Linked DNA regions of Homo sapiens. The protein of the gene in region 4 purifies or fractionates together with the protein of the main gene of each other region. This does not show direct contact. Each region holds a gene or a part of one and is shown on either strand. Other genes may lie near its edges. The genes, in order: ETFA, COPZ1, NAA15, DUSP28, QNG1, PYGL and ECHDC1.

What was found.
Region 1: the proteins of DUSP28 (region 4) and ETFA purify together in Homo sapiens (affinity purification with mass spectrometry, with the first as the bait; one large-scale study listed by BioGRID). This does not show direct contact.
Region 2: the proteins of DUSP28 (region 4) and COPZ1 purify together in Homo sapiens (affinity purification with mass spectrometry, with the first as the bait; one large-scale study listed by BioGRID). This does not show direct contact.
Region 3: the proteins of DUSP28 (region 4) and NAA15 purify together in Homo sapiens (affinity purification with mass spectrometry, with the first as the bait; one large-scale study listed by BioGRID). This does not show direct contact.
Region 5: the proteins of DUSP28 (region 4) and QNG1 purify together in Homo sapiens (affinity purification with mass spectrometry, with the first as the bait; one large-scale study listed by BioGRID). This does not show direct contact.
Region 6: the proteins of DUSP28 (region 4) and PYGL purify together in Homo sapiens (affinity purification with mass spectrometry, with the first as the bait; one large-scale study listed by BioGRID). This does not show direct contact.
Region 7: the proteins of DUSP28 (region 4) and ECHDC1 purify together in Homo sapiens (affinity purification with mass spectrometry, with the first as the bait; one large-scale study listed by BioGRID). This does not show direct contact.

Annotation. Positions count from the first base shown.
Region 1 is NC_000015.10:76,283,970-76,287,469, forward strand, and holds part of ETFA (electron transfer flavoprotein subunit alpha, mitochondrial), read right to left. Parts: intron 2,513-3,500; coding exon 2,402-2,512; intron 1,770-2,401; coding exon 1,668-1,769; intron 1-1,667. UniProt on the Homo sapiens protein: Heterodimeric electron transfer flavoprotein that accepts electrons from several mitochondrial dehydrogenases, including acyl-CoA dehydrogenases, glutaryl-CoA and sarcosine dehydrogenase.
Region 2 is NC_000012.12:54,349,131-54,352,346, forward strand, and holds the end of COPZ1 (coatomer subunit zeta-1), read left to right. Parts: intron 1-489; coding exon 490-528; intron 529-1,345; coding exon 1,346-1,393; 3' UTR 1,394-2,716; downstream 2,717-3,216. UniProt on the Homo sapiens protein: The coatomer is a cytosolic protein complex that binds to dilysine motifs and reversibly associates with Golgi non-clathrin-coated vesicles, which further mediate biosynthetic protein transport from the ER, via the Golgi up to the trans Golgi network.
Region 3 is NC_000004.12:139,304,505-139,308,004, reverse strand, and holds part of NAA15 (N-alpha-acetyltransferase 15, NatA auxiliary subunit), read right to left. Parts: intron 1-3,500. UniProt on the Homo sapiens protein: Auxillary subunit of N-terminal acetyltransferase complexes which display alpha (N-terminal) acetyltransferase (NAT) activity. The NAT activity may be important for vascular, hematopoietic and neuronal growth and development.
Region 4 is NC_000002.12:240,558,857-240,563,156, forward strand, and holds the start of DUSP28 (dual specificity phosphatase 28), read left to right. Parts: upstream 1-1,500; 5' UTR 1,501-1,828; coding exon 1,829-2,221; intron 2,222-2,473; coding exon 2,474-2,611; 3' UTR 2,612-4,300. Other genes in the region: ANKMY1 (ankyrin repeat and MYND domain-containing protein 1), read right to left, coding at 1,875-2,094. UniProt on the Homo sapiens protein: Has phosphatase activity with the synthetic substrate 6,8-difluoro-4-methylumbelliferyl phosphate (in vitro).
Region 5 is NC_000009.12:83,943,243-83,946,742, forward strand, and holds part of QNG1 (queuosine 5'-phosphate N-glycosylase/hydrolase), read right to left. Parts: intron 1,748-3,500; coding exon 1,552-1,747; intron 1-1,551.
Region 6 is NC_000014.9:50,937,984-50,941,483, forward strand, and holds part of PYGL (glycogen phosphorylase, liver form), read right to left. Parts: intron 3,223-3,500; exon of another isoform or gene 2,818-3,222; intron 1-2,817. UniProt on the Homo sapiens protein: Allosteric enzyme that catalyzes the rate-limiting step in glycogen catabolism, the phosphorolytic cleavage of glycogen to produce glucose-1-phosphate, and plays a central role in maintaining cellular and organismal glucose homeostasis.
Region 7 is NC_000006.12:127,340,810-127,344,976, forward strand, and holds the start of ECHDC1 (ethylmalonyl-CoA decarboxylase), read right to left. Parts: upstream 2,801-4,167; 5' UTR 2,527-2,800; intron 1,599-2,526; exon of another isoform or gene 1,563-1,598; coding exon of another isoform or gene 1,547-1,562; intron 851-1,546; exon of another isoform or gene 678-850; intron 1-677. UniProt on the Homo sapiens protein: Decarboxylates ethylmalonyl-CoA, a potentially toxic metabolite, to form butyryl-CoA, suggesting it might be involved in metabolite proofreading. Acts preferentially on (S)-ethylmalonyl-CoA but also has some activity on the (R)-isomer.

The DNA.
Region 1 (3,500 bases), on a different chromosome or scaffold from region 4:
CCTCTGACACTCCTATACTTCTATAAAGCATTCAACACTACTATGATTACCTAGTTAACTAATTGTGTAATTAATATGAGTTTTTTTCCCACTAGAATAAAAACTCTTTAATTTCAGGATCTATATCTATCTTGGTCACTGCCATATCTGCAATATTTAGCAAAACTCTACATATAATAGATGCTCAATAAATTTCTCTGAATGACTGAATAAAGTTATTATTTGAATGGGAGTCATCTCAAGGACTTTAAACTCCTCGAGAGGAAGAACATTCTGCCTTTTCATCTGTTTCTCCAGCACTTGGCAATAAGCCTGTCATAGAACAGATAACCAATATACATTTCTTGAATAAATAAGTGAATAAACAAGTCAGGGCCCAGCTCGGTGGCTCACACCTGTAATCCCAACACTTTGGGAGGCTGAAGTGGGCGGATCACCTGAGGTCAGGATTTCGAGACCAGCCTGACCAACATGCAGAACCTCCGTCTCTACTAAAAATACAAAATTATTATTTTTATTTATTTATTTATTTATTTTTTAGGAGGAGTTTCACTCTTGTTGCCCAGGCTGAAATGCAATGGTGCGATCTCGGCTCACTGCAACCTCTGCCTCCCAGGTTCAAGCAATTCTCCTGCCTCACCCTCCTGAGTAGCTGGGACTACTGGCATCCACCACCATGCCCAGCTAATTTTTTGTATTTTTAATAGAGACGGGGTTTCACTATGTTGGCCAGGCTGGTCTCGAACACTTGACCTCGGGTGATCCACCCGCCTCGGCTTCCCAAAGTGCTGGAATTACAGGTGTGAGTCACCGCGCTGGGCGTAGTGGCACATGCCTGTAATCCCAGCTACTCGGGAGGCTGAGGCAGGAGAATCGCTTGAACCTGGGAGGTGGAGGTGGCGGTGAGCAGAGATTGTGCCATTGCACTCCAGCCTAGGCAACAAGAGCGAAACTCCATCTCAAAAAGAAAAAAAGAAAACGAAAAACAAGTCAGATATATCACTTCAAAATATTAATTTTTTTTTCTCAATGATACTTGCAATAGAAGGCTGTCTGAAAGCTTATTTTGTTGGATGTTTAATTGCAAGGATTTAAAAAGCATAACAGTCCTTATTTTTTCAAAAAGTTAGTCAGTGGGCCATAAAAAAATCATTGTTTTTAAAGACAAGGAGCATGATGTATAAAAATAAGCATGTCTTATGCAATATTAACAGTTTTGATATTAAATGTTAAGAAACTTTTTAAAGAGTTATACACAAAGACATGGACAACTCTGGAAATCTTTCCAAGTGGAAAGAAGGGTAGGAATTATACACAAGATGGCCCTGAAATTCAAGCCAGTTCTATCTATAATTGAGAAGCCAACCATACTCTGCAGAATTCATGGAAGTCCATCAATAAGATGGCACCAAGTGGCAAAGTTATGCAGATAAGATTTATACCATGCTCCCCCTGGTGCCAGTGACTAGGTGTGCAACAGAAACCCCAAACTGTGTATTATGCTCATAATTTCATTTTCCTAATTGGTTAAATGGGAATAATATCCCAAACTTCCCAACTTCTTACATTTGAAAAAGATCTGTGTACTTCTAAAATAAATACTAAAAATAAAAAAAAAAATCAAAGTATTTTCAATTTACATCTTTTAAGATTAATATTTCACTTACCACCAGATACCACCACTTTGGCACCTGTTAGCTCTGGTCGATCACTTTTTGTTAATTTCTGGTCAAGCCACTCTGATATTTCCACTGGTGAAGTACTTGATGCTGCATACATTAATACATAATAAAACAATGACTATGATTTCAAGTTCTATAACAAGAATTATTTTCAAGAGAAACACACAAGTATATAATTCCACGAAATTTAAGTTAATTACTGTGAATTTTCAGTGCTCCTAATTAATTCTCTCTGATAATGGAAAGACTTAAGGAGACTAGATTCCAGCCTTTGCCACATTAGCTGTATGACTCCAGAAATCATTCAATTCTCTGAGTCTGAATATAGAATAACTTTCTTTCTATGAGGTTCAAATAAGACACTATATATGTTAAAGTGTGACACCCTCCACACGTTTCCTATTACATTCTTCTGTTATACTGAATCACCCAAATATAATAGGAAACAGTGACAAGAGTAAAAAAGCTTAATCTTAATAGATCCTCTGTCTCCCACTCCCTTGATCTACCAAAGCAACTATCCTAGTACCAAAGATAATGTGAAAAAGATGTAAGTTATACATATTTATTATTTTTGTATAAGCTTGGGAATATCATTTAAATTGAACTTTCAAATACTATTCATTAGAAATGTAGGCAGAGGTCATCTCTTATTATAATACAGTCTATGAATTAAAAAAGTAAGAAACAAAACAAAAAAACTCCAAATGAACACTCACCCTTTTCTGAACTGGCACTACCGCCACTTGTTGCTGCAGCATCAAAGGATGTTCCACGGACAGAAAACACTTTCACTTTCTCATCACACTTCACTGTACATAGAGCATTTCCTGAAACATACAATCTATTTCTTAAAAGCAACAGCAAAAGGCAACAAAACTAGCACTCCTTTGATGCTTGGAATTTACTTCACAGACAAGGCAAGAAATAACTATTGACCAGTTGTCTTCTAACTCTATTAAGTATAGGAAAAAATGAACCATAACGGTGAAGAAACATATCAGCAGATATCTGTATAACCCTGGATGTCTTTAAAAGCAGGACAGGTACTACCACACCTAGAAGGAAGAAACTCGAACAGGCATCCACACTAAGAAGGTACACTACACCTCTAAAAGGAATATGAACAAAGCTTCCTTCTCCAAAAACAATACAATCAGTAACTCAAAACTATGAGCTGCAACAACTTAGGAAGAATGTAGCTACTGTGCATGCTAAAGGAGGAATATCTTGAAAACACAATAGGTCATAAAGAACAGGTATGAATGTGCTAAGATTTTAAGAGGATTTGAGACACTCTGGATTAGCTATCACATTAACAGTAACCTAAACCATGACAAAATATTTTCCCTCAAACATTATGGAAGATGAAAAGTCTAATTTCAGAATTAGCCATTCATACTGGAATACACAACTTTAATCAGGCAAAAAACGAAGAGTTCACTGCCTTCTCCGACCCCACTAGAGACCAGTGTGCTAAGCAAAAAATCAACTGAAGAGACACTGAAATGAATTTCTTTTCTTTTTCTTGAGACAGGGTCTTGCTCTGTTGCCCAGGCTGGAGTGCTGTGGCATGATCACAACTCACCATAGCCTCGACCTTCTGGCTCAAGCAATCCTCCCACCTCAGCCTCCCAAGTATCTGTGACTACAGGCATATGCCAACATGCCTAGCTAATTTATTTTATTTATTTATTTTTGAGATAGGGTCTTATTATGTTGCCCAGGATAGCCTCAAACTCCTGAGTTCAAGTAATCCTCCCACCTCAGCCTGCCAAAGTGCTGGGATTATAGGCACGAGCCACTGCAGCTGGCTAA
Region 2 (3,216 bases), on a different chromosome or scaffold from region 4:
CCCATCAACTCCCCGCTTTGTCTTCTTAGGCTGCTGTTGCAGCAGTTTATTTCTTCAAATTAACATGCTGTCGTTACCCATCAGGCTTTGCGGGATCCATTAAACCACTCCTGGCTCCCCCTCATCCTTTCCCTAGTGATACTGATATTCAGAAAAGGCCTTTTCTGACTAGGGAATCAGGTCCTCCACCCCCACGTTAAGGGAGTTGAGGATCAGATAACCTGCTGGTTACTCTGAATGGAGTTAAATCTTTTAAGAAGTCCTCCTGCCTTAAAATGGAAGCTGGATGAAATGACCCTTTTTTGTTCATAGTCCCTCTGGCCAAGTAAAATTGTAGCTGTACTAGTCCCTAGAAGGGACTGAGAAGTTCAGTGCATCTGCCCTTTGTTTCAGTTTAAAGGATCACTTTTTTCTTCTCTAATACCAGACTCCAATCAGGTCTTACTCCAGCTTTCTCCCACACTAAATGCTTGTATCTCTGTGCCATAGGGTGAAGATGTCCCCCTTACGGAGCAGACCGTGTCTCAGGTATGACTCTCCCTTCTTCCTTTCCAGATGGACTGGGTCACTAAAGAGGCTAGAACAGCATTCCACCCATACCTCTCAAATCTGAGTGAAACTAGAGACTCAAGACACATCTTCCTTGGCTCCCTCTTATTCCAGAGAACTGGGACTCATACAGCCAGCCACTCCCTACCCCTACTTCCAACTCCTTTCTCAGTTACCTGTGAGCAGTGGCTGTCAGCCTTGCTCTGTACCCTTCAAACCCTCCCTGCCTGCCTGATGCCTCATTCAGTGATTTATTCCCCAGCAGAGGCTTGCCTTAAGCAGATGGTCTGTGTGCATTTGTGCACACACACTCTCTTTCTCTTATTATTCAATTGAGGGCTAAGCTGGAAATGCATATTCTAGAATATGCAGGTTTTGCAGATCCATCTTGCTACCTTGACTGCAGATAGATTGTCTACCTGATGTAGGGGGAAGGGAGGGGTTCCGTTTTCTACCCACTTGGAATTCTCACCAAGAAGTCCATCTGGATTTGTTACCCGCCCCCTGCCCGCCGCCCCTTTTAACATATGTCCAGTAACTCCCTTTTTTTTTTTCTTTTATACCAGGTATACCTCTTCTCTCTTCATCCCCTCAGTGGGTTTGAATTTTTTTGGAATTTTCCAAACAATCTGCTAGGGCCTTAGAGAGCTTCTTCCCATCTCTTTACCCTTGGGGATTTTCTATTCTCCATTCTTCTAAGGACAGGGAAGACAAGTGAGGGGAAGGAGATCCCCAGCCCTCATCCTTACCCTGCCCTGTCAGCAAGCTTTCCTCAATGCTGCTCTTATCTCTGCAGGTGCTGCAGTCAGCCAAAGAACAGATCAAGTGGTCACTCCTTCGGTGAAGACCTCACTGTTCCTGGCTCTTCATCCTCTTCAAAAAATTTGCATGTCTGCTGTGAATTTTCATCTAGTTCCCCAATCGATGCTCTCAGGGTCATCTCGGGGATCACAGGGATCCTTAAATCTCCATTCTGTTTGTGGTTGCCCCCTCAACCTCCCCTACACCCTTCCTATTCTTTTTCATTCTTCTTGCAGTTCTGGGAGTAAAGCTCCCAGCATATTTAGATAATAGGGCAGGGGAAGCACCCTCTTTCTTTCTAGACTGGATTATGCTCACATGCTCCCTTGCCCTGACATTTTTGTAAATTCTGTGCCCTTTGCTGTAGCTACACTTCAGATTAAAGTAGGAGAAAGAATGTGCTGAGTGTTTTCCTCCCTTTGCCTCTACCTGGCCCTCATCCCAACAGCCCAGCAAGGGGAGAGAGAAAGAGAATTCTTTTCTATAGAACGAGTGGGGGCGGGGATGGGTAGGGATTTATCCAATCTAAGCCCTAACCCCACTTAGTGACCTCAGTGTTTTCTTCCATTCCTTCTTACTGCCCTGTCCTCTGCCTTGGAAGAGGCTTTGGGAATAGTTCATAGGGAAGGGACAACATGGAAGAAACAGCGATTTAAATTGTATTGAACAGGGCATATAAAATGCATTCTGTACCCTGATCTGGCATATAGCTTCAAAACTGCAGTGGCGAGTGTCCATCTCTTAGTTAGCTACCTTAACTGTCCACCCTTACTACCTGTGGGATCGTTGCCTGGTTTGTCTTCTCTGTGTCCTGGAGCAAAGCCAGTTCCTAAAACTAAAACTCCATTCTAGTCTTGGGAAGAAAAGTTTCTACTCAGAACTGGGGAAGGAGTGGAACTTATGACTTGGGCCTCTAGGCTGTCTCTGTCCCCTCAGCTCCCCGACATGCATTTACTCTCTGCCGTGGGTCTGCAGTCGCTGCAACCTACCCTCTCTCTGCCTCAGCCTTACACCCAAGCAGTAGGTCTGTGCTCTCCCTGTCTCTAGGTCGCTGAGAGAGGTGCTTTTCTTCATAAAACCTTTGGGGTTTGGATTTCCCCAGGAAGATGGAGAATGGAATACTCACTCTTGGGTCTAATCTTTCCCCTTGACCCAGAACTTCCTCCCCACAAAAATGCCTTTAAAAACCTTCCTGAGACTTAAGCATTCTGCCCCACTTACTAACTGCCAGTTCTCCAGCACTGAGGTGGGGCAGATAACGGGGCATATTTAAGGGGGCATCTTTGTGTAAAAGATGCATGGAGTCAGGAGAAAACCACCTTCATAAACTGCTCTGTGCAAAGAGGAATAAAACATTTTTTCCAAACTGCCTTTGTGTGATGTTTCTGTTTCTCTTCCTCTCTTTTTGGCAGCTACTCCTGTTCCTCCAGCCCCCCGTCATTCCCCATCTTATAATATTTCTTCCCTCCTACCTCAGAGACTCCTAGCAGTGCCCCCCCATCCCTAATTTACGGGGCTGTTTGCCTCCTTGGCATCTCTCCGTCCCCTCGCCTGGAAATTGGCGCCAGGGGTGGGGTGGGGATGGTATTTTCTCAGTGGGAGTCCCAGGGAACTGAGTTCTTCCCCCATCACCCCCAAAGCCAGCTGCCTGCTCCCGCCTCAGCCATTAGTAACCCAGAGACGCGCACCTGCGTGGGGGCTCTTCTCCAGCCCTTGCTCACTTCCTGCACCTCCCACTCCTGCTCTGAAACGGCGCTGAGCGGGTTATTTATCGGAGCCAGCGCTGCTCCAGAAGGTCAGGACGGTGGTGTAAATAACCTCTTCTCGCCATTTCCCCGTCCCTCCAGAGCCTGCTCCCCTCCCCCT
Region 3 (3,500 bases), on a different chromosome or scaffold from region 4:
GGGCAACAGTGAGACTCCGTCTCAAAAAAATAATAATAATAATAATAATTTACTTATTATACAATGTATACAGCCACCTAATAAGTATTACTACTCCTTTGCCTAACAATTCCCTCACCCTCCTCCTACACCCCTCCCCTAAATAGTTAAACACTAGGCAGGTGTGATGTTAAGTGCCCTGAAAAGAAAAAAAGTTTTATTCCAGACTGTAACTAACACTAGCTGTTGACCTTAATCTCAGTCTGTTTGCTTAATAAAAATGTCCCCACCTTGAAAAGTTTTGAGAATTAAGAAAGGACTCTAAATAAAGCATGCTGTGTCCAAAACGGTAACCATTCACCACATGTGACTATTTGAATTTAAATTAAGATTAATTAAAAATTCATTTCCTCAGTTGCACTAGCCATATTTCAAGTGTGCAATAATTACATGTGGCCAGGCCAGGCACAGTAGCTCACATCTGTAATCCCAGCACTTTGGGAAGCCAAGGCAGGAGGACTGCTTGATCCCAGGAGTTCAAGACTAGCCTGGCCAACATGGCGAAACCCCGTCTCTACCAAAAATACAAAAATTAGCCAGGCGTGGTGGCACGCCTGTAGTCGCAGCTACTCGGGAGACTGAGCTAGGAGGATAGCTTGAGCCCGGGAGGTGGAGGCTGCAGTGAGCCGTGATCAAACCACTGCACTCCAGACTGTGTGATAGAGTTAGACCCTGTCTTAACAAAAACAACAAAAAACAAACCTACACATGGCCAATGGCTATCATATTAGAGCAGATAACAAATATTTCCATCATCACAGAAAATTCTACTGTGCAGTGCTATTCTAAAGCACCTAGAGCAGAGCCTGGCAAATGGTAGATTTCTCATTTTACCTGGCAAATAGTGACAAATCACAAACATAATCATCATGCTATTTTAACTTCTCTCACCACTTTTCTAGGAAAGAAAAATTCTGTCCTTTAACACTTACAACTAACAATTTAAATCATTCAGGCTAAAGTCCAAAACTACATTTATTGATGTACAATATTTTAACTATTCCCAACTTAGATTTTTCTTATAACTGACATTAACATTTGAAGAGCAAAAAAGAGAGAAGGAAGCAGCAGCAACAGCAACCAACCTACCAATACTTGATTGAAAGGCATTAGGATATGTCCATCTTTTCCAAGCAGGTTAAAATCTAAGGTGTGGATTTTGTTCTACTCTGGCAACCTCATTTTTCCTACCCTTAACCTAGATCCTAACAAAGTGGTATAAATATCTGGTAACCTCCTCAAACTTTTAGATAAACAAATAGCATCAACAGTAGGCAAAGGCCACAATTTTCTAATGACTTAATTTTCCAAATAAGTTAAAAGTTTGTAATTACAAACAAAACAAAACAAAACAAAACAAAAAAAAAACCAGACCAAAAAAAAAAAAACCAGCTTCTGGCAAACACAAGTCTTCCTTAAACTCTTACATAGGACCAGGTGCAGTGGCTCATGCCTGTAATCCCAGCACTTTGGGAGGCCGAGGCAGGCAGAACACTTGAGGTCACTAGTTCAAGACCAGCCTGGCCAACATGGTGAAACACCATCTCTACTAAAAATACAAAAAAAAAAATTAGCCGAGTGTGGTGGCAGGCGCCTGTAATCCCAGCTACTTGGGAGGCTGAGGCATGAACCCAGGAGGTGGAGGTTGCAGTGAGCCAAGATCACACCACTGCACTCCAGCCTGGGTGACAGAGCAAAACTGTCTCAAAAAACAAACAAAATAAAATAAACTCTTACATAGTATATGTCACATTAAATTCATCCCATCCTTTTTCTAGACAAATTATCAGCAAGAAACATTATGCAAGCATTTTGACTAACTTAGGACAATGCTTTAGTCAGAAAACAGAAGAGTAATATTGGAAAAAAGAGAAAAATATACAACAAAACTGAATTTTAGAGATCAACTAGACTAGATCAAGCCAGGCAAATCCACTGCAGAAACTCTAAAATTTTTGCAAACTTATGTGTAAAGCAGGTTTCCATTAAAAATTTAAGGAAAAAAATGTTTATTTTGAAATACAAACTAACTGTATTTCCTACTTAAGTTTATCATAACAAGTACAGTACAACTAACAAAGTAGCAGCTCAAAAGTTGAATGCTGCAGGAATGATTTAACAAGTTACCAAGCAGCCAGGAGCAGTGGCTCAGGCCTGTAATCCCAGCATTCTGGGAGGCCAAGGCGGGTGGATCACTTGAGGCTGGGAGTTTGAGACGAGCCTGAACAACATGGAGAAACCCCATCTCTACTAACAATACAAAATTAGCTAGGTGTGGTGGCACACGCCTGTAATCCCAGCTACTCAGGACGCTGAAGCAGAACTGCTTGAACCCGGGAGACAGAGGTTTCGGTGAGCCGAGATCATGCCATTGCCCTCCAGCCTGGGCAACAAAAGCGAAACTCCGTCTCAAAAAAAAAAAAAAACAACAAGTTACCAACCTAGCAACACTTGATTACATAGAGCACACACATCACATTATGTCCAACATTTCCTTTATCAGACCGGGCAAAAAAAAAAAAAATCTTAAAAGCACTAACTTACTATCAAATCTCAAGAAACAGAAGCAATTTCAAAAAATCAATACTATCCTTTTGGTCAGTAACACTTTCTTCATTCCTAATGTATGAGAACAATAAGGACATTTTAGCTCCTTTACTCTTCCTTCATTTAGTGACTTCCACATTTCTCTCACATATAACTTATCAATAGATCTTCAGCACTGTGATTTTGGCAATAAACTTACAGGTTTTTGCCCCACTAACACTACCACAAAAAAATTAAGATGTTTAATCAAAAATTGCTATTATATGGATGGTTAAACACACTGTGGTACATCCATATCATGGAATACTACTTGGCAATAAAAAGGAATAAACTATTAGCTGGATGTAGTAGCCCTGTAGTGATCCCCCCTACTCCGGAGGCTGAAGCGGGAGGACTGCTTGAGTCCAGTAGTTTGAGGTTACAGTGCCCTTTTGATAGAGCCTATAAATAGCCACTACACTCCAGCCTGGGCAACAGAGGAAGACTCTATCTCTAAACCCAAAAGAATGGCAAAATTATACAAATAGAGGACATGTACCGGTTGCTGGAGCCTGCAGCGAGAGGGGATGGGAGGGCGGTGGGAGAGATAATGGATGTGGTTCTAAAAGGGCAACAGAGGGGGGTACTTTGGACTGAAGGAACTTGTTCTGTAGCCTAATTGTAGTGGTGCAATCTATACATGGGATAACGCTGCATAGAAGTAAATACAGTCAGCTCTCATTATCCTTGGTGTCTGCATCCATAGGTAAAAACTATTTTTAAAAATACAATAAAAAATACAAATTTTTAAAATACAGTATAACTATATAACAGTAATATTGCATTAGGTATTATAAGTAATCTAGAGATATTTAAAGTATACATTCGCATAGGTTATATGCAAATACTACACCACTTTACATAAGGGACTCAAA
Region 4 (4,300 bases):
CGACCCAGTACAAACCACTCAGAAAAATGTTTCATTAAAAGTTCGGCATACTACATGCATGCACTCTAATATTTTCATGTAGTCTATTATTTCTCTAAAAACTAAAATGCTGATCATGACCCACAGAATTGATTTCACAACCCACATTAGTTGTGAATTACAACTTGCTAAGGAGTCAGAACCAACATGTAGAAACCCTCTGTTCTTAGCAAGCACATTCTGGTTACACTGTGGGGGACTAGCACCAAGTCCAGGAGACAGAGGCTGGCCCAGACTAAGTGTGGCAATGAGATGCAGAGACACTTAGGATGAATTGGTTCCCAATCCATTACCTCAATGGAGTGGGAGCATGATGGTTCAAGTAGCAGGCTTTGGAGCAGAAAACCCACCTCAACCATCCTCCAACCGTAAAGGGTGATGATGATTCATGAAACAGTCCAGGAGGAGGAGGGACTTCAGGTTTTGTTTGATTCATTTCAGTGGCCCAACAGTGGCATCAAGGACCTTGGCTCTCCCATCTCCTCTGCTTTCACCCAAGGCTGGCTTCCCCTTATGGCCATGAGAGAACAGAGGAGCCTTCCAAAGTGCTCTCTCCTTCATGGGTTATTAGACACCAAGCTCATTCCCAGAGCAGTCACGGGAGTGTGGCCTTCACTTTTGGCCAGAGACAGAGCCAACTCCTAGAAAGCGGAGGGAGACAGTGTCCCAACCTAATCAATGGCTCCCATGAACGCCAGGGAAAAAAAGGGAATTCCACTCCTCCATCCTAGGAAAGTTGGAGTCCTTCCTTAGGGTGGAGGAAGTGGGAAACAGATGCTGATAAGACCTCCACGGAGGTGATGTCTGGAGCTGCAACCAGGGAAGACCTGGCTGCAGACATATTTGAGTCTTTAGCTCAAGAGTGAACCCCAGGCTGCAATAAAGATCTGACAGTTACCAATGCTAGAAGGCTGATGGACAAAGCAATGACGATAACCCAGAGAGAGACTGTATGCAACTGAAACTTCAATTGCTAAATGTCTGTAGGGCTGTTGAGACAGTTGCTTTTCAGTGTATCCATTGCCTGAAAATTACCAGATGTCAGAAAAATTGAAGGAGTCTTAAATGGCAATTTCATGGACATTAAGTGATATTAAATTTTTTAAAGTTACAATGCTGACCCCAATAAATTACTTAGAAACAGCAAAAGGAATAGTGTGGTCTATGAAGAAGTGATGAAAATAGAAATTAGTTTTATTTTATGAGCCATGTGTTATAATACATAGAAAAAAATGCACCAATTACAAAGCGGGCCACAAAAAGGAATAAACGTAAAGCCGACAACGCAGTCACTAGGGAAAGGGTGAAGACACGGGAACCACGCAGCCCGCCGTCCACGTGCACCGGGTAGCCACGGGGCCCTAGCCGAACGACGCGGACGCGAAGTGGGCGGGCCCGGCCAAGCCACGCCTCCGCGCCAGACGCCGCAGTAGAGCGGGCAGGGCGCTGCGCCCAAGAGCCACAGACGCAAGCCCAGTGCCACAGGCCGCGGGGGCGGGGAGGACGGCGCCCGGGGACAGAGAACATGGGACGCAGAGCGGTCCAAGGCCCCGGCGCCCTGGTGAGGCCCAAACCTCCCGCCATGCCCCGGCCCCAACGAGACCCAAGCCCCCTGTCCCGGCCCAGCGCCCGCGGGGGACCCAAGCCCCAGCCTGGTCCACCTCGGAGGCCTCTAGGACCCGGGGGCGCCCGGCGGCCCGCCCGGCTCCCACAAATAGACTCCTGGGCGGGCGCCTGAGCCCCCAAAATAGATCCTCAGGGCCCAAAAGCAGACTCTTCGGCGGGCGCCATGGGACCGGCAGAAGCTGGGCGCCGCGGGGCCGCCTCGCCCGTACCTCCACCGTTGGTGCGCGTCGCGCCCTCACTCTTCCTCGGGAGCGCGCGAGCCGCGGGCGCGGAGGAGCAGCTGGCGCGCGCGGGAGTCACGCTGTGCGTCAACGTCTCCCGCCAGCAGCCCGGCCCGCGCGCGCCCGGCGTGGCAGAGCTGCGCGTGCCCGTGTTCGACGACCCGGCTGAGGACCTGCTGGCGCACCTGGAGCCCACGTGCGCCGCCATGGAGGCCGCGGTGCGCGCCGGCGGCGCCTGCCTAGTCTACTGCAAGAACGGCCGCAGCCGCTCGGCCGCCGTCTGCACCGCGTACCTCATGCGGCACCGCGGCCTCAGCCTGGCGAAGGCCTTCCAGGTGGGCGGGCCTTTAGGGGGGCGGTGTTTCGAGAGGGGCGTGTCTTCCGGGGACGAGTTTTCCGGGCGGGGCCGGCTTCGGGATTGGGACAGGCACTTCCGGGAGGGGCGGGTCTCTCTCGTGAGGGCGGGCTTAGGGAAGCAGAGAGGCACTTCCGGGTTGGGCGGGGCCCACTCTTACAGCTGGGCCCGCCTTGGCCCCTGCTGGCCATTAGCGCGACTTGGGGTTATTCAGTACACTTCTTGTTTGCAGATGGTGAAGAGCGCTCGCCCGGTAGCAGAACCGAACCCGGGCTTCTGGTCTCAGCTCCAGAAGTATGAGGAGGCCCTCCAGGCCCAGTCCTGCCTGCAGGGAGAGCCCCCAGCCTTAGGGTTGGGCCCTGAGGCTTGAAGCTTGAAGGCCTGCTGCCTGGAGGAAGGATGTCCCTGCACTGATACAGAAGGCTGGTCTTTACCCTTCTTCCTCACTGTCATATCGAGTTTTCCTTTGTGTGTGTGTGTGTGAAACATAGTGCTTTTAATTTTATATTTCCGGCTGAGGTGATGCACAAATTATCTTACAGACACAAAAAGAAATACATTTGGTAAAACATCGAAGACAAATTAAGAAAAAGCAAATAGGGATCCTCCATTATTTACACTCCAGAATCTTGAGTGTTTGGGGGTGCCGGCGCATTCTACCAGTCTCAGGGAAGGACATGAGTACAGACTACAGTAATCAGAATCTGAGTCATAGGTGAAATCAGGAAAAGCAACTCTTCTTGTGTTTATTTTTAGTAGTGTCATAAGAACGGACTAGTTCTTCCTGCGTGACCACGGATGCTTCTGTTTGAGAAAATGCATACCCACGTGGGACATTTAGATCAAGAAAGCTGTTGATGAAGACATTGTTGAAGGGCAACTTGGGTGATTGGGGAATTATTCTCTTCATCAGCCCCTCTGCAATACAGCTGGAGCTGTCCCATAGGAGTTCGGACAATTACGGACATCCTTTTTCTTTCTCTCTTTCTTTTTTTTTGTTTGTTTGTTTGAGACAGAGTCTCTGTTGCCCAGGCTGGAGTGCAGTGGCGCAATCCCGGCTCACTGCAACCTCCGCCTCCCTGGTTCAAGTGATTCTCCTGCCTCAGCCTCCTGAGTAGCTGGGACTACAGGTGTGTGACACCAGACCCGGCTAATTTTTTGTATTTTTAGTAGAGATGGGGGGTTTCACCATGTTAGCCAGGATGGTCTCAAACTCCTGACCTCGTGATCCACCCACCTCAGCCTCCCAAAGTGCTGGGATTACAGGCGTGAGCCACCGTGCCCAGCCTCCTTTTTCTATTACTAGAGAACTCCAGGACATTAAGAATTTCAAAAGTGATTTTTTCACCCATGGCTTCTACGGTGACAGAGTATGGTGTTCCTGTAGGGAAACAAAGCCAAGTTTTTTTGCTCCTTTCACTAAAGCTGCTTCATCCGGGGAGGAAGCCTGGTAGATTATAATATTTCCAGGGATAACAGTGTGGCACACAGATAACAGGGTAAGAAATTGGTCTATATAGTTTTCTGTGGGATGGCCATTCTCAATGTTCTCCAATAAACTGGGGTAATTAAAATATCAGGGCTCGGATGGAAGGTGTTGCACCATAAATGACACCTGCAGTGGTACTTGTTAAATGTCTTAACATTGCAAGTGAGGGTTCCCATTTTATCAGAAAATAGAAATTTTACCTGCCCAAGTTCTTCACTGAGATTGAATGTGCTGGCCATGGTGTGGACACTATTTACTTTATAATGCACATCTTGATCCCAGTTTATAAACTGGGCCTGAATATATTTCACAATTTCCATAGTGACCAGCAGACTAATGGGGATGAGGTACTGTTATAAGATGATGAACACCAGTATGTCAAACACAATGCTGTGAGCTGGAATCCTCTTTCAGGTACCAAATGTCACCATACTTTTTATTCCATAGCACGGCTCCCACGCAGCTCACTACAGACATGACCAGAGCAGCAGGAACCAAAGGGAGACCCGCCCATTGTCACTTTCTTAATCTCTGATCTCTTGAGGTGATTTGACAGAATTCTGCAGGAAT
Region 5 (3,500 bases), on a different chromosome or scaffold from region 4:
GGCAGGAGAATGGCTTGAACCTGGGAGGCGGAGGTTCTGGTGAGCCGAGATCACGCCACCACACTCCAGCTTGGGCAACAGAGCGTCTCAAAAAAAAAAAAAAAAAAAAAAAAAAAGAAAGAACACTGGACGATGGAAACCACGTAAGAGAATACTCAGAGACAGGAATGAACAGTGTGTACAAAACAAAAAAAAAGCAGCTTAATATGGCCATATGAAAAATAAGCCCTGATTGCTAAATGTTGTCCCTTTTAAAGGTATCCAACAATTAGTGACCCTTGACATGGGCATGATGACAAAAAATAGCATGTTCTTTTTCAAATGAGGAAATGGAAGACAAAACAGATTGCCCATGGCAGCATAAAAACCCAGTAGAGCCAACCATAGGAATAATGGTACCTTTATATTCTGTGTTATTCTGATCTGGGGGATTCAAATCTATTTCACAAGAGGAAATTATTCAATCATAGAATCTACTTCTTTTAAAAAAATACATAAGGCCGGGGTGGTGGCTCACACCTGTAATCCCAGCACTTTGGGAGGCCGAGGTGGGTGGATCACAAGGTCAGGAGATCGAGACCATCCTGGCTAACACGGTGAAACCCCGTTTCTGCTAAAAATACAAAAAATTAGCTAGGTGTGGTGGCGGGCGCCTGTAGTCCCAGCTACTCGGGAGGCTGAGGCAGGAGAATGGCCTGAACCTGGGAGGCGGAGCTTGCAGTGAGCCAATATCGCACCACTGCACTCTAGCCTGGGCAACAGAGTGAGACTCCGTCTCAAACAAACAAACATAAAGAGGCCAGGTGCAGTGGCTCACGCCTGTAATCCCAGCACTTTGGAAGGCTGAAGTGAGAAGACTGCTTAAGCCCAGGAATTCAAGACCAACCTGGGCAACATATTTTTTAAATAAAATAAAATAAAGAAAAAAGTAGCAGAAAATTTTGCACCTAAAAGAGAAATTAACATGAAAATCATATAATTATTTTCCTCATACAAGGAAATGTTATAAGCTAATTTTCACACAAACTTTTCAACCCAATTTACCTAAGCTTATATATCATAAGGCTCCTAGTCTTGATATCAATAATCATATCCAATAATGGCGAATAAGCCTAAGGAAGTGAGTGACTTGTGCAAGATATCCCAGTGCAGACCTTGGAGTCTCTTCACTCAAAAGCCAATTCATATTACCTATCTTTCAACCTACCTTCATATAACCATGTAGTGTGCTCTTCAGCTTAACACTCTTCAAATACTATAACTGATGAACTATCAGTGTTACATACTTTCATGTAACATAAATTTAGGTTTCATTAGGCTATGAAATTATAATGTTCAAATAGCACAATTTTCTACAATATCCACATTTCACAGTGTAAACAAAAAGAAAAATCATTTTCTCTACATTTTGTCTTTGCATTTTCCTTTTTACATATACTATGAACAATAAATAGTACTTTTTTTTTAAAGCAAAGGAGACCTTTTGTAAAAGAAACTAAACCGAGATCCAACAATTCATAGTATAACAAAGAATGACTTAAAGTTGCAAACCTTTGAGAAGCTTCTTCAGTAGGTCATCAGAGTATTTCAGGGCTCCAAGATGAGCAAGAACCTGAGGTAATCTATAATCAGCAAACATGGTGATACTGGAGATGTCCTTGAAGCAGCCATCTCCTTTTCCTTCCAATACACTCCACGTATCTGCTACAAGGATTTGGGCTCGTTTGTAAAAAGAAACTCTTTTCCCCTGATGAATGAAGAGAATATAAACGTTATTTGAGTATCTGAAAGCTTTATATATGCTATTTTTTAAAGGTGCAGTTGAAACATTTTTTAAAAGGCAGAATAATCTTACTTTGTTGGTAAGAATTTATAGATTGGCCGGGCACCATGGCTCCCGCCTGTAATCCCAGCACTTTGGGAGGCTGAGGTGGGCAGATTGCTTGAGCCCAGGAGTTCAAGACCAGCCTGTGAAACATGGCATAACTCCAACTCTACAAAAAAAAAAAATTAGCTGGGCGTGGTGGCACACATCTATGGTCCCAGATACTCAGGAGGTGAGGTGGGAGAATCGCATGAGCCTGGGAGGTCAAGCCTGCAGTGAACTGTGATCACACCACTGCACTCCAGCCTGGGTTACAGAGGGAGACCCTGTCTCAAAAAAAAAAAAAAAAAATTCATAGATCTTTTACAAGAAACAAAAGGATTTAATGAACATTAAATTTTCTATCACTCCAAACTCGCTTCCCATTTTTCAAGGCACATAAAATACAATTTATGTAATCTTGATACTACTTACTATTCTTTTTCAATGGCATTACTTCATATACAGATTTCTGCAATATAATCCTAGGGCTTATTATTATTATTATTTTTTGAGACGGAGTCTTGCTCTGTCGCCCAGGCTGGAGTGCAGTGGTGCAATCTCGGCTCACTGCAAGCTCCGCCTCCTGGGTTCACGCCATTCTCCTGCCTCAGCCTCCCGAGTAGCTGGGACTACGGGCGCCGTCACCACGCCCGGCTAATTTTTTGAATTTTTTTAGAAGAGACGGGGTTTCACTGTGTTAGCCGGGATGGTCTCGATCTCCTGACCTTGTGATCTGCCCGCTTCGGCCTCCCAAAGTGCCGAGATTACAGGTGTAAGCCACCGTGCCTGGCCCAAGGGCTTATTATTTTAAATGTGTAGATAGCATTCCTTTTGAAAGTTTCTTAAATTAAAACACGTCTGTTTTTCTGATTGCAATATAATTCACATTAATTGTATAATATACAGCCAAGTATAGGCCAGGCATGGTGGCTCACGCCTGTAATCCCAGCACTTTGGGAGACTGAGACAGGAGGATCACGAGGTCAGGAGTTCGAGACCAGCCTGGCCCATATGGTAATACCCCGTCTGTACTAAAAATACAAAAATTAGCTGGGTGTGGTGGCGATCGCCTGTAGTCTCAGCTACTCAGGAGGCTGAGGTAGAAGAATTGCTTGAACTTGAGTGGCAGAGGTTGCAGTGAGCCGAGATCGCACCACTGCACTCCAGCCTGGGCAACAGAGCAAGGCTCTGTCAAAAATAATAATAATTAAAAAAAAATACAGCAACATACAAAGAATAATCATCCATAAGCTCAGGTCTGAAGAGAACCACAACATTCATTTTTAACTGTTTCCTTTCAGATAATATGATTAACTTATTTTATGAAGACATTAATTGATCAACAGCTAGAAAATGATCATATTTACCAATTTTGGAAATGCTCAAAGTTGATATGTAAGTCCAAATATGAAAATAAAATAGCCAATTATATTTATACATAGAAAAGACAAATTTAACCAAGCATTAGTGGGTTATAATTTAACTAAAAAATTCTAGCTAAGTGTGGTGGCTTACACTTGTAATCCCATCAATTTGGGAGGCCAAAGCCAGAGGATTGTTTGAAGCCAGAAGTTCAAGACCAGCCTGGAAAACGATGAAACTCCATCTCTACAAAACACGGCGAAACCCTGTC
Region 6 (3,500 bases), on a different chromosome or scaffold from region 4:
GTGTTTGAACCAAAGTGACTCCATCTTGAATAGGAGCTGGGTAAAATAAGGCTGAGACCTACTGGGCTGCATTCTCAGAACGTTTGGCATTCTAAGTCACAGGATGAAATAGGAGGTCTGCACAAGATACAGGTCACAGAAACCTTGCTGATAAAAGGTTTTCTTTGCCTCCTTTTTAATGATTCCAAATTAGCATGGACTTAAGATATTTAAAAATATTTCAAAATCTTTTCTTTTTTTATTTTAAAGACAAAGTCTTGCTCTGTCACCAGGCTGAAGTGCAATGGTCCAATATCAGCTCACTGCAACCTCTACCTCCTGGGTTCAAGAGATTGTCCTGCCTCAGCCTCCTGAGGAGCTGGGACTACAGGCATGCGCCACCATGCCCAGCTAATTTTTCTATTTTTAGTAGAGATGGGGTTTACTCCATGTTGGTCAGGCTGGTCTCGAACTCCTGACCTCAGGTGATCCGCCCACCTCGGCCTCCCAAAGTGCTGAGATTAGAGGCGCGAGCCACTGCGCCCGGCCCCTTTACTTTCTTAATAAACTTGCTTTCACTTTACTCTATGAATTTGCCTCAAATTCTTGTGCGAGATCCAAGAACCCTCTCTTGGAGTCTGGGATGGTGACTCCTTTCTGCTAACACTCCTATAGAGATGTATGAAGGACTAAATAAAAGTGTTACTGACAACAGGTTTTGGCAAAGCACTATTTTTGGCGAAGTAATTCAGTATTTTTTACCCCCGGGGAGAAAAAAAGCAAACTCATCTAAGTAGATTCAATGTTTTGTGTTTTTTCCCTCTCCTGATCATGAACCTCATGAATAAAGCATAGGTTTTGGACAAACAGAAGTCAGACGGCCATAGCTCACCATTCATTAATAAAATATTTATAGGGCACCTTGGTGGGTGCCGGTAAGCTGAGTTGGCTATGACTATCTCAAGTCATCCAAGAAACACAAAGATTAACTCCCACACACCGCATGGGTAGAAAATATTCCTCCTTGGCTGATTACTGTAAGAAATTTTACAGTTTAATTAATTAATTAATTTATTTATTTATTGATGGATTGATTGAGACACAGTCTCCCTCTGTCGGCCAGGCTGGAGTGCAGTGGCGCAATCTCAGCTCACTGCAACCTCTGTCTCCTAGTTCAAGCAATTCTCCTTCAGCCTCCTGAGTAGCTGAGACTACAGGCGCCTGCCACCATGCCCAGCTAATTTTTGTATTTTTAGTAGAAACAAGGTTTTGCCATGTTGGCCAGCCTGGTCTTGAACTCCTAACCTCAGGTGATCTGCCTGCCTTGGCCTCCCAAAGTGCTGGGATTACAGGCGTGAGCCAAGCGCCCGGCCTACAATTAATTTTAGAATCAAATTTTTCTATAAAGTCTATTTACTGGCAAGTTCCTTATGAACAAGAAGACTACCTAAGGTTTATTGGTGTTTGTTCTTATTGAAATTGGAAATTTCTCTATTGACTTAGACATTATTTGCCTTTGACATGGTAAAAGTCAGGCAAATATCATCAGAGTTGAAGGTGAGAGGTACAAAGTTCAGACCTGCTGAAAACCTTCTTTATATACAGCACAGTTTACTAATTAAAAAAAAAAAGCACCAGTGAGTAACTTCATTGCCCCCTTTTACAATATCTTATTCTCCAATCATCTATCCTCTCTTCTCTACTAGACACAAAACAAAATGGCAAAAATCTGTAAATGCACCAATATAGTTACCTCAAATTTTAGGGATTGCCCCATTTCCATAAGATAAGAAGTAAAAAAAGAAAAAATAATAATTTGGCCAATCAAAAAAAATTGTGAGTAGAATTCAGTATAATAAAGGCGTATTATCATATTTAACATACTAGTTACACATAAATATTTAAAACAAAATATTATTTGAAAACGTCAACTTGGAAATTTCATTCTTTCCCATTTTCCTTTTATGAACAATTGAGTTCTAAATTTCACAACAAATGGTCAACATCCATGACCTAACGGGCCACCTAACACTGCTTTCCAGAACACATCATCTTCGTTTTCATCCAAGTTGTTTGAATGTCTATAATGCTGTTACTAGAACCCTCACCAGCTATTAGATACCTTCGAATGATTGGATAAAAGTACCTTCTCTGGGGCAGACATAGGCAATGGCTGGTGCTCTAGTACGTGATGACCGCTGTCACAGGTAATAGTATCTTAAGCCACAAATACCCATTTGCATAGTATTACCCAGTTTAAAAAAATCCTTCCATGTGTGTATTTTCATTATCTCTATAACCATGATGTTTTGCCTTTTTCTTTTAAGTAATCTACAAAAAGCTTGTTTATATAGTATATATTCCACACTTGCAATTGTGAGGTTATACCCCCAGGAATAATGACTACATCTGTATTAAATTTGCCTCCTTTTTAATGATTCCACATTAGCACGAACTTAAGTCTTCTTAAAAATATTTCAAAGTCTCTCTTGAGAGATATGTGGTTGCTCAGAATAAAGTAAATGAGAAAATACTTCCTTGCATGACAGACTTTATAAGGACAGGAACGTAAGGTGATTCCCTGTTTTCTCACAAATAACTTCTTAGAGGTAATCTCTCCTTATATTTGGGAATATATAAGACTTCAAAAAATAGATCTTGGCCATACTCTTACTTACTGGTCTCTAAATATTTGTTACATATGACTGATAGTAAAATATATGAGCATCTCCAATATACTTTATAAATTACATGCATGTACTATGATTACTAGTATTTTATGTAAAAAGTGGATATTTTCAAAAGGCTTGTAAAATAAAATAAAGAAGATATAACAAATATTTTTAAATTGTATGTTTTATTTTTATCCCCAGCATTAGTCAGAGGGCCTGGGTACTTCCGGGAAGACCTCTGGAACACCTGTCAATAAACCTGAGACTTGCAGGACAGGCAAGAGTTGAGCATAGAAATGTGGTAGGAAGGACACTGCAAGTGAATCGGGGGCCCAGAGTGGGGATTGGTTTGTTGGGAGAGCAAGGTGGGTACAGAGGGTAATGGAAGATAACAAGGGAAGAACAGGCCCACCTGGACTGAGAAGTGCTTTCGAATACTTGCTTAAGTTCTATGGCAGGCAAGAGGAGCCAATGATAATTGAGCAGGGGCAAGATGCGTTGCTTTAGGAAGCTTGAGCAGACCACAATGCACAGAATGAGACGGGATCATATACTCAAATGCCTTCAGGAGCTAGGCAGAGAAAATAAATGTGTAATTGAGGTCACATAAAACAAAGAAGAGTACTGGGCTAAGAAATGGAGTGTGCAAGTCCTGACCACAGGCGCTAAAAATTAAATTCCTGAAAAATGTCTTGGCCAACAAAGTATGTCTGCTATCCTTATTCAGCCTCAGGCTGCCGGTTTTACCACTTCTGGAAAGCAAAATAACCACGTGAAGTCAGCTGCAACAAATGGGTAGCTAGAGCCTCACCAAGGCAGGAAGAGATAATGGAGGAGAGCACGTCATTC
Region 7 (4,167 bases), on a different chromosome or scaffold from region 4:
AAATAAGGAGGAGGGACTTATAAAAGCATTAGCATTTTGTGGGAAAGTAGAATCAGTAAACAACATATCTTCTGCTCTCATTGTAAAGGGTCTGTCTGCTCTGTCTTGATACATTACCCCTCTCTCCAACATCAACACTACAGCAATTAGTATGAACGCCATCAGATCTATATCCTTTTATCCTCAAATCTTTAAAACATTAAATATTTAAGTAATAGTAGTATTTTGCCTCATTAGACATCTTTGATCCATCACTGAAATGCCAATTTTTCCAAGAAAATCTTGTAATACTTCATGTATCCTTTCTCTATTAATTCCATATTTTCTATCTTCTCTCATTCTATTCCCTCCCACTACTGTCTCTCCTTTTCTCTCCTCCTCTTATATTCCTTGTCTGTGCCAGAAAAACCTGAGAACACTGCTTAAGCCTGCTAGATTCACTGACCCCAAGTTTAGAAATCCAATTCTAAAAATTTTATAATAGCCTATTATGTACACTTTCGTCCCAGTTCTAAATTCAGAGACTATCTTAGACAAAAGCTCAGTGATGAGATGACAAGGTGTTAGTCATTATTAACCTACTATAGTATCTAATAGTATAAAGTGAACAAAGCTTAAGATTCAGGTTCTGTAGAAGTATGTAGTTAAACGATTGGTTTTTTTTGGATTTCTTCCAGAATCACAGGAAGATGAAAAGGTTCTGAAGCATTTACAATTTTATAAGCTTTCTTCGGGGTAAAACTTATGTTTAAAACTTGCCATGCAGGATGTCTTGCAGCCCCACCACAAAGAAGATTCAGTGGAGCTGAACAAGCTCACTACCAAGCCACTGAAAAGAGGAAAGAAAGTCCATCTGAGATCAAAGGTCGCACTTCCCATTTTTTTCAAGTTCTGCAAAGGTGATCTGTTTCCCTTTAGTGCACAGGAAATAAGTGAGATGTTCTCTAAAAGCCTTTACCTGTTTCACCTTATACTGTAATCACTAAATCCAGAAGACTAACGCAAACTCATACTTAAAAAGAAAACAATTAGCCTAGAGCACGTAATAGAAATCAGAAGCATTTGATTTCAGACTGTCTGTATATCGCCTGTTTGTAAAAGTTCTGATTCGGTTGTAGGCTGTCATAACATAAACTACCTTTCAAGGTTCATTACATGCCACCCACAACTCTCTCCCTCACACAGCCAAAATGCACAACTTTCAGTTCCTGAAATCCTTTTGATTTTTTCGCCATCTCAAGCTTTCGCATATGCGATCTACCTGTTACATTTTTGTCTTCCTCAGAGTAACTTCAAATCATCTCCTCTAACATAGGACTACATAAAGTCCCCTTATTGTCTGCTCTCAGAACATCTGTATCTCTCATCACCACTCTCACTCACTCTTTGCTGTAATTAGTTTTTTAACCAGTTCTTCCCATTAGTCTTAGCTGCAAGAGGGCATTTGCAGTGCCTAAAGATAATATTCTTAAGACTAAACAGGGGCTTAAGAATCTGGCCACAAATCAACTCTCCAACTACCCTGTTTATAATCCTCACAACTCACCCTGTTTCAATGCCATGCTTCTTCACAGGCTGGCTTCCCTTCCTGGAATGTTAATCATTGCAGGAATCCCAGCTGATTATACAGTCGCCTTTCAGGCCAGAACCCAATAAAAAATCAAGAAAGGATCGCCCGTTCTATTACTGCGCTGCTCCCTCCCCTCGTAGATTTCACAAATATACTTCTCACCACAAGCTTGTCTGTTCCAAGAGAATGCTAGCTCTTCTAAAGAAGGAGCCCTTTGTTTTCCTTGCCCTTGTCCAGTTCCTCTGCATACCTCTAGCACCTAGAGCAACAACTGCTATACAGGAGCCCAGATGTGGAACAGAGCAAAGAACTGAGTGTTGATTTAATGTTGCCTGAAGTCCTTAACAGCACCTTCAACCTAAACTTAACTGTGTTTTTAATCCCCTACACGTGTAATCCCTGTATGTGTGCGCAGCGTTAAAAGGATTATTGTAGCTCAAAAATTCTCCAATGAAAGAACCTCTACCAGAAAGGAGTTGCTCATCTTTCGTTCTTGAAAAGTTGGCTGCACGATACAAGTAAGAAAAGTTTTAGTTAGGCAAGACAACTTATACATAAAAGACAATTATAGGGAACATTACCTAACTTAGCACAGGGCCTCGAATGTATTCCGAAATTAAATCAGCATGTAGAAAGCAAGCCTCCTCATGCTTTTTAAAGTGTAATCTCGCGACCTCGCGGCGCGCTCTGGGAAGACCGATTCATCTCTTCCCCTCGCCCTCTTTCCCCGGCCGGCGCACAGCCGGCCCGTGGCGCTCGGCACCGCGTCTCCACGTCCAGCGCGGGGCAGGCCTGCGCGGCGCTTGCAAGGGACAAGCCGCGGAGCCGGGGAGGCTCGCCGTCTGGGACACGTTTGGAGAAGCGAGCGGTACAGTCCATTCCACGGCGACATTTTAGGATTCTCCCACTGACAACACTAAACTGAAGCGCTAAGACCAACCCTTACGACCACTTACCGTCGCAGGCCACGGTGGTGACTTCCTTTTCCGCTCCCCTACACACGCTTTTCCGTTTTGCGTGCCTTTGTTTCCGCTCCCCCCGGGACCATCGTGCGCCCCTGTCCTCCGTTCTTGTAGGTCCTCTCCTCTTCTCCGCGTCTTCTCTTTTACTATCCCACGCTCTCCTTTCCTTTCTCCGGGAACTTTATCCCGTTCCCCTGCCGGTTCCCGTGACCCCGGAAATCCCGCTCCTGCCGCGAGGCGCCCTCCGCTTCGCGCTCCCTCGTGTCACGAGGGAGCCAGGGTGGGCGGTCTCCTATTGTACTTGGCTTTTGAATTTTCGCTTTTGCAGCACAAAGGTAGGGCTGGGAAAGGAGGCTGCCGAACCGTGCTTGTTTTCGCTCAGATAAACGTGAGAAAAAGTGGAGGTGAGGAAGCCAGTGTAGGCAAATAGCGAGAGGGGAGAAGACAGAAAGGTACCGAAGGTCGACCTTTTTTAGGTATCTTATCCAAGTTATTGAGGGGAATGGGTATTTAGCCAGTTTTTTGTTTGTTTGTTTTTATCCGAATATCCAGTGTGTGTCTTGAATGTGTGAATGTGACGTGTTTATAAAGCTCAGTAAGCTTAAAATTCCGTGCCAATACATTTTGTATGCCGCAGACAGGAAGTGCTTTGGAAGACCCTTGAAAGGGGAGGTGATTTTACACCAATATTGAGATCATTTTGTCAGAGTCGTGGGACTAAAGGTAGACCTTAGGTAGTCGATGTCAAAGATAAGCGCAGCTGGACGTTAAAGCGGTGAAAACATTCAGTTAACTACTGACAGGAAAGAGCTGAGCTCTATTTCGATTCGTGCAGAGATCATCTGGGCATTTTTAAAGGGACGTTTTAAAAGGAGAAAGGGGATATGCGGGCGCTCAGTAGAGAAAGTGAACCTACAGAGTTGTTAGTGTAAATGTGATTAGGCCAGCTGTGTGTTTGTGTGTGCGCGCGTTTTAACAGTTACCGCAGGATTCTATCCTCCTACGGAGGATTTTATCCTTCTCGATTACATTTCAAAGGAATGACTCTCTGGTCCTTGAGAGAGAACTTCTGAGTGGCAAGAAATAAGTCTTTACAATTGCAAGCCCTTTAGTAAACGTTCTAAGAAAGGGATGTCAGAGACCTATCATCAGTTGTGTGCTGGTTACATCACGTAGTTAAGCTTTCTGAGGCAGTCGCCCTGGGCACAGGGCCTTATGCTGCTAAAGCTTGCTAGAGTTTGGTCAAGTCTCTGAACGCAGGGGTTTAGATGGGATGGTCATGTTCCTGGAGTTCTGCAGTGGTCATAGGTATGATTTGAATAAGTACAGGGAATATTCTAGTCGGAGGAACAGAATGTGCCAACGCGCCGAACAGGGAGGATAGTTTTACGATACGGAGATGTGTATGATAGGGAATAAGTGGGAGCCCAGTTTGGACTAATTGGAAGAAGTCATTATTAGAAGTACTGTATTTAATTCTAGTTTGTTATAAAATGAGACTCCAAGATCACTGAGCCATTTCACTGAGACTCCAAGATCACCCCAATGCTAGGCTAATCTCCATGGCGCCTAGATCTATGCCCACTCCATTCCCCATGTTGGTCCCCATAGTTTCAGGCACCAGGCTCCAACACC